Homo sapiens: one gene and its partner. The protein of the gene in region 2 purifies or fractionates together with the protein of the main gene of each other region. This does not show direct contact. Each region holds a gene or a part of one and is shown on either strand. Other genes may lie near its edges.

What was found.
Region 1: the proteins of CACNA1H (region 2) and PPP3CB purify together in Homo sapiens (co-immunoprecipitation; one study listed by IntAct). This does not show direct contact.

The regions. Positions count from the first base shown.
Region 1 is NC_000010.11:73,440,484-73,444,300, forward strand, and holds part of PPP3CB (serine/threonine-protein phosphatase 2B catalytic subunit beta isoform), read right to left. Parts: exon of another isoform or gene 3,306-3,817; intron 1-3,305. UniProt on the Homo sapiens protein: Calcium-dependent, calmodulin-stimulated protein phosphatase which plays an essential role in the transduction of intracellular Ca(2+)-mediated signals.
Region 2 is NC_000016.10:1,197,811-1,201,627, reverse strand, and holds part of CACNA1H (voltage-dependent T-type calcium channel subunit alpha-1H), read right to left. Parts: intron 3,014-3,817; coding exon 2,854-3,013; intron 1,373-2,853; coding exon 1,057-1,372; intron 913-1,056; coding exon 820-912; exon of another isoform or gene 407-819; intron 297-406; exon of another isoform or gene 239-296; intron 1-238.

The DNA of each region.
Region 1 (3,817 bases), on a different chromosome or scaffold from region 2:
GCAGTAAACTTGATGAATTACTATAAGTAGAACAGTTCTGTGGCTCTGTTCTTTGTGGGGGACCTGAAAGGACTTCTCCTGTCTACCAGTAACTTCCTTTCTATTCTAGTACTGATGTTCCAAATACCTACAGATACTAACATCTATAGCCTTAAAAAATTCCATTTATACTGACAGAGTTTATCATGAACTCAAATTTGCCTCAGAAAAAGACTACTGAGCATCTTTTCAAACTCATCTACCAATTAAAGAGACATTAAGGAAGAGAAGTGAGGTCTTACAGGCATAAATTCTAATTATTTCATGATATAGACACATAGGTCATATTATAAATAAGAAATACATTATTGGTATAGTGTGTCACTGGTCCATTTAGAGAATTTCACCATAATTAGTCAAACATTTTATAGTCAAAGATTCTTTTTTTCGCTCATTTCTGGGTTTGAACTGTATAAAGAGCTCACACTGAGGACCAGGACTCAAGATAGCACACAACAATACTGGTTTACAATATTGTCCATTCCCCTTATTACTCAGAATATTTGTAAAAGTAATGCCCTGGTCTCTCCTATTTTGCTTCTTCTGCAATAAGGCCAATTAGAATAATTATTCCTGAAGTGATCTTTTAGCAATTAACATGATTTAGAAATAATTTTATCCAAAGCAATTATTAATGTAAAAGAAACTGATGAATCTAAGGTATTAAAGTGAACTAAGTTAGAAAATGTTGATCTTAACCAGACAGTAAAGTGAATTGGGGACCCAAAAGAATTAGGACGAACACTGAATAAAGGAAGAGTTAATTTTCCTTAACTGTTAAACTACATTACAAATCGGGCAGGACATGGAAGATCATGCCTATAACCCCAGCACTCTCGGATGGCTGAGGTGGAAGGATCCCTTGAGCGTTTGAGCCCAGCCTGGGCAACACATAGAGAGACCTCATCTCCCCCCAAAAAAAGTTTAAAAAATTAGCCGGGCATGGTGGTGTGCATATGTAATCCCAGCTACTCGGGAAGCTGAAGCAGGAAGATCACTTGAGCCCAGATTGCTAATTGCAACACTCTATCTGAAAGGCACTATTTCTCCTCTATTTGTTTTCAGTTATATAGGGCATCTTGTCATGGCCTTAATAAGTTTGAGCATAGTGCTATCTCAAACTGTGTTCCTCAGTACTATGCAAGATAAATGACCAAGAGGAATTTGGTATTACTAACATAGAATTGGCCACATATATTTCCCATATAGATCCTGGTGAGGGTAGCATTACAGTGCTAGCTCCCAATCAAATTTCCCAGAAAGAAAACATACATAAAATAAAGATGAACAGAAAATCCACCTCCAATAGAGTTGTGCAGTTTGTAAAAACACTCAAGAAACATCATGTAAATTAACTTTTAAAGTTCTTGAAACGACAATTTTTATTTTCTGACAAATAGGCACGAGGTCTTAGAATTAAAATTTTTTCCTTTTGCAATACCTAACTCTCAGTTATACACACTAACATCAGGGAACATTATCTACTAAAATTTAAAATGTAGGATAACTTTTTAAAAAATAATCACAAACATGCAGCTTTTGTATGACCTTTGTTATTTGTTTCAAAGTGGATTTATCTTATGCTAGGAAAATAATTTTGACCAAATGCCCAAACCACACTATCAAGAGCTAGCAAAACTAGAAGCTATCTAGTTTAAGGGGTCCCAAATTAGACCCCTTAAACTCAATTCCTTCCAGTAACTTAGTCCATGCTGAGAATAGAGAGTCCCTCCAGCAAAGCTGCTGTCTTTCAAACCTCCCCTGCAGTTGAGGGTGGTTTCAAAGTTGAAGGAATGAGCTTCAAGCCGTGTACAAATTAAGAATAAACAGAAGTCAACAAAGCATGTAATTAGCAGGGGCTAATCGTGAAATCTGAAAGCAAGGTTTGCTGCGGATACAATATAAAAGTAATGTTATATCCAAGGATAACTGAGAGATGACTATACTGTAGATTTATTTAAGTATGATACCCTTTTGGTTTTATTTTTCTTTTCTGAACAAAGAAGAGTATAATATTTTTGAAGCTATTAAAGTTCATCCTTTTCTATTAACATTTTTACTAGTTTTATCAAATGTTTAAGATCTTGTTTTAATGTACATTCATGAAATTCTTTTTAGTTCATTTTTCTAATGTTTACAATATAATAAGAAAAATGGAGGGCAAGGAATGTAAAGCAAATCAAAGCAGGTTGTTTTTTTTTTTTAAAGAAAATCAAAAAAAGAAACCTCATTCAGAATGAAAATTTATAATTTCAAAACACAGTGTACTTTTCAGATATACCAGTGGTGGTAGTGAACAATACAATGACATTTAAAATAGAACATGTATAGGCTACAAGTAAAAATTGTTTACAGGAAAAAAATTTTTTTTATTGAAAAGCAATCATTGGCCAGGCATAGTGGCTCATGCCTATAATCCCAGCACTTTGGGAGGCTGAGGTCAGAAGATTGCTTGAGCCCAGGAGTTTGAGACCAGCCTGGGCAATACAAAAATATAAAAAAATAAAAAATAAAAAAAATAAAAAAAATTAGCTGGCTGTGGTGGCATGTGCCTATGGTCTTAGCTACTTGGGTGGCTGAAATGGAGGACTGCTTGAGCCCAGGAGGTTGAGGCTGCACTGCACTCCAGCCTGGGTGACACAGCAAGAAACCAGACCCTGTCTGTCTCTCTCACACACACACATGTACACATGCACACAAAAAAAGAAAGACAGAGAGAGAGAGAGAAAGAGAGAGAGAGAGAGAGAAAGAAAGAAAGAAAGACAGAAAGAAAGAAAGAAAGAAAGAAAGAAAGAAAGAAAGAAAGAAAAAGAAAGAGAAGAGAAGAGAGAAAAGAAAAAAAAAGAGCACTTATTATGGAACCAAGTGAAATGAAATTGTGAAGTCAAATGTAAATTCATTCAAAACGTTAAAATTGCCTATTTTTTTCCCTCTAAAAAAGTCACTAATTACAACACCAAAAAGAAACCTAATTATGACTAAGGAAAACATCAGATCTGTTGCTATTTTAATAGACAATGACCCTTAGAGGGCTGTCAAAAGTGACTACAAGAAATTCAGGCTTTTCCACATCATGTATTTTTGCTTTCCAACCACAGGAAAAGAAATCTAGACTGAATTACTGTGTATGGTCACTAATACTCACATCACTCTCTTCTATTTAATCTGTAATGGGCTTTTAAAAAGTTAACCCAGTATTTACACAAATATTTACGCCAAAAAAAGTTTTTTAAGTATAAAATATTCAATGAGCCAGATTACAGGAATGCTTTACGTATAATTCTTTTTATTTTCATGCAAAATAAAGGCACACTTAATAACACCCTTTCAATTTTGACTTACAGGATTTAAATTCAACCCCTTATAACAATGACTTAATATCTAATGTTACATTCATGTTCAGAATGCACAAAGTGCAGCAACAAATGCAGCAAACCTCAAAACAAGGTGCTACAAAGCTGCTTCTACATTGCAAGACAGACAAGTGTCTGATGGAGTAATTTAATTGAACATACTTTTACAGACATACAGCTAACCTAAAGAAAGACAGACAGATTTAGGAAAGCAGCTACATCTGCAGAGGAAGGAAACAGCATGTTACAGACAGTTAATTATACATAGAACATTTGACAAACACCACAGAAAACAAACTTTGGCATCATTTACCAGGGTACAAAACCTTGCACAAATCTTTTGGTAACTGAAGGGCATAAGTAATGTTCTGGGGCCTAAGCAGGTAGTTAACTCTAAATTAAGTAGTTTTAAATATAAGCATAGT
Region 2 (3,817 bases):
GAGCGAGTCTCTGATTCGCCACTGAGCCCTACTGTGCGCTGCCTGTTCGAGTGGGGGCCGCGTCACAGGCACAGTGGGCGAGGTGCCCTGCTATGGGCAGGCTGCTGCGGTGTTCAGTGCTGAGCCCCCACGTCTGGAGCAGACGGCATACAGTAGCTGCTTTGTGCCTATCTGGACAAAAGACCTGGAACCCTCTTTCCTGCTTCTCCATGTGGCTCGGCCCCTCCTTTACCTGCAGATCTGGCCTTGAGATGACCCTCTCAACGGTGGCCACTCTCCCCTCCCCAGCACCCCAGGTGCGTTTCCTCCTTAGCATGGACCAGCGTGCAGCAAGTCTCTAATCGTTCGCTTCGCTTGCTCTCTCAGAACAAGCTGGGGACGTCTGTCTGCTTCTGTTACCTACTAGGTCCCCGCAGGGTGGCTCTAGGTATACCTAGGACCCCACAGACGTCTGCGGCCTGATTAACCCAACTCTGCCAGGACCCACTGGGGCCTATGAGAGGACCAGCTAAGGAGCACACCTGGGGCCACACACGCCCGTGGAAAGCGGTGCTGGGAGGCTATGCACTCCCCAGGGTGTTCCTGGCTCTTCAGCCCTGAGCCAGCACCCACAGGCCTGGACCCTGTCTAGGTGATGCCATGGCCTCTTGGGGTCCCCAGCCACACCTCCCCACCCCCGCAAGCTCTGCCTCCCTCCCCTGTGTGCTCCCTTCAGCTGGAAGACAGACAGGAGCCCCTATGACCACCCAGGTACCCCACCCCACCCCCAGCCAGCTAACACCAGGGCCCATCATGGCGAACACTGCCGCCCACACTCACGATGATGAGCAGGATGAAATAGATGAAGTTGTAGAATGAGTGGGCGTCCATGACGTAGTACATGATGTCCACCCAGCCTTCCAGCGTGATCACCTGGGGGGGCAGTGGCTTGACTTGGGCCCGCACGACCCCTCCTCCTCCTCCCCGTGCCCCTGGGGTCTGGGCTGGGGGGGGCGAGTCCTGCACCCGCTCCCCTGCCGTGCCCCAGGGTCCCCGTCCCACCATCTTGCCGCCCACCTGGAAGATGGCAATCCAGGCGTAGCCGATGTTGTCGAAGTTGATGGCACCGTTGTGGGGGTTGGAGTCACCCGAGCGGCACACGTTGTAGTACTGGTTCCAGTTGATGCAGGCGTTGCGTGCAGCGCCCACCCCCTCGGCCTGCGGCTGCGTGTAGGCCTCCCAGCCCAGGGTGCAGGGCATGCGCAGCTCGCGGCGGCCGGGGATGTGCGAGCACTTCTGCATGCCGTTGTCTCGGCGTGAGGAGCAGATGAACGGGTTCTCCTCGCCCTCCTCCGTCTGGTAGTACGGCCGCAGGAAGGTCAGGTTGTTGTTCCTGGGGATGGGCACAGCCAGGGCCAAAAGGTACAATCAGGGTCAGGGACGGTCAGAGTCGGGGGCACGATTGTGATCAGGGACGTGATCAAGGTCAGGGACGTGATCAGGGTCAGGGCCAGTGGACTAATCATGGTTAGGGAGGCACGGTTAGGGTCAGGGGGCATGATAGGACTGAGGGTCAAGACCCGGATCAGGGGACACAGCCAGGACCAGGGTCAAGAACACAGTGGTGCTGCAGAAACCACACTCTCCTCAGCCCAAGTCCACAGAGACAAACACACAAAGAACAGGGATGGACAGAGAAATCAACAAAGAACAGCACAGACAAACAGGGAGGGAGACCCAAGAGCCAGAAACCCAGGCTCAGACCTCAGCAACTCCTGGAAGCGGATGAGGGGCAAAGGGCAAGGGACGAGGGGAGGGAAGCCTGGGGTGAGGGAAAGGAGGCAGCCCTGGGGTGAGGGCTGAGAGGATCCAGGGGTGAGGGCTGAGGGCAGGGAACCCCGGGGTGTGGGCTCAGGGGACCCTGGGGTGAAGGCTGAGGGGAGACTCGGGGGTGAGAATTGAGGGGAGAACCCGGGGTGAGGGTTGAGGGGACCCCGGGGTGAGGGCTGAGGAGAGACTGCAGAGCAAGGGCCGAGGGGAGACCCTGGGGTAAGGTGTGACGGACTCTGGGGTGTGGGGAGGGGATGAAGTGTTGGGACTAACCTGTCTTGGGGGCTGAGAGGTGGCAGCACTGGGGGTGGGACATATGTGCAATGACCGCACGGTGGGTGGAGCCATGATGGGGGTGGGGCATATATGCAGCGACCGCACGGTGGGCGGAGCCATGATGGGGGTGGGGCATATGTGCAGCGACCGCACCGTGGGCGGAGCCATGATGGGGGTGGGGCATATGTGCAGCGACCGCACGGTGGGCGGAGCCATGATGGGGGTGGGGCATATGTGCAGCGACTGCGCGGTGGGCGGAGCCATGGTGGGGGGTGGGGCATATGTGCAGCGACTGCACGGTGGGCGGAGCCATGATGGGGGTGGGGCATATGTGCAGCGACCGCACGGTGGGTGGAGCCATGATGGGGGTGGGGCATATGTGCAGCGACCGCACGGTGGGCGGAGCCATGATGGGGGTGGGGCATATGTGCAGCGACTGCGTGGTGGGCAGAGCCATGGTGGGGGGTGGGGCATATGTGCAGCGACTGCGCGGTGGGCGGAGCCATGGTGGGGGGTGGGGCATATGTGCAGCGACTGCACCGTGGGCGGAGCCATGTGGGGCGGTGACTGCCAGCTGGGCGGAGCCATGATGGGGGGTGGGGGCGGGAGACAGCATGGTGGACGGAGCCATGACGGGGACAGCAGTGGCGGGGCGGGTGACTGCACGGTGGGCAGAGCCACGTGGGGCGGTGGAGCCACATGGTGCGTTATCTGCATGGTGGGCAGGGCCATCTGGGCAGGGGCCTCACGGGGGTGGGGCCTGGGCACCTGACAAAGGCACTGTCCAGGAAGCAGCGGTTCCGCAGGAGGCCAGCCCAGAGCTGGACGCCAACGATGCCGAAAATGAAGAAGACGAAGAAGCACAGCAGAAGGACGTTCCCGAGCATGGGCAGCGTATCCAGCAGCAGAGTGACCAGGATCCGCATGCCTGTGGGCAGCAGGGCCAGGATTGGCACTGCTAAGCCCTGCAGGAGTGTCCTCGGGGCTGCAGCCCCTCCCGGGACCCCCGAGCCCCGTCCACTGTTCACAGTGGGTGTCCACGCCCACTGCACACTGACTCGGGCCACCCCCTGGTGATTTTCCCGCACCCCTAGTGTGATCGGGACTCCCCTCCTACCACCACCGGCCTCCAGGGACACTGACACCCTGGGGTCTGACGTGCATCCAGCGGGGCGCCAGGTCTCCACCTCCAACCATCCCAGGGCAGCAGGTCTGCTGCTTTTGGAGGGCTGGGGTGTGGAGGGGCAGGAGTGGAGGCAGGGGACTGGCCGAGGCAGGGAACTGGCTGCGGCAGGTCTGACCACGTGGCATCTCGGGCTCGGGATGACCAGGCGGAGCCCAGTGGCCCTCGAGGCTTGTCTGGCGACACCCTGAAGTTGCCACCAAGGCAGCAGGAGCCTTGGGAGCCCCAGAACCTCAGGTGGTGGGCTGCCTCCTGGGGGTCTCTGCAGCAGGTCTGGGATCCTGAAAACTTTGTCTGATTCCCAGTGAGAATCCTGCCAGAACAGAGCCCCATCTCAGAGAGAGGCTGCTGGAGGCGGTGGGGAGGACCGGCAGCGGCTTTTCAGGAGGTAGCACTGAAGCCATCGGTCCTGGGTGCTATGGGCTACGTGAACTCCAGATTAATCCAGCAAGTGGGTCAGCCAAGCCCCACGCGCCCCTCGCTCCATCCTGGGCCTGCTCCCCCAAGACGTCCTTTCCCTCAAATTTAATCAAGGGCCAGGCTAAGGCA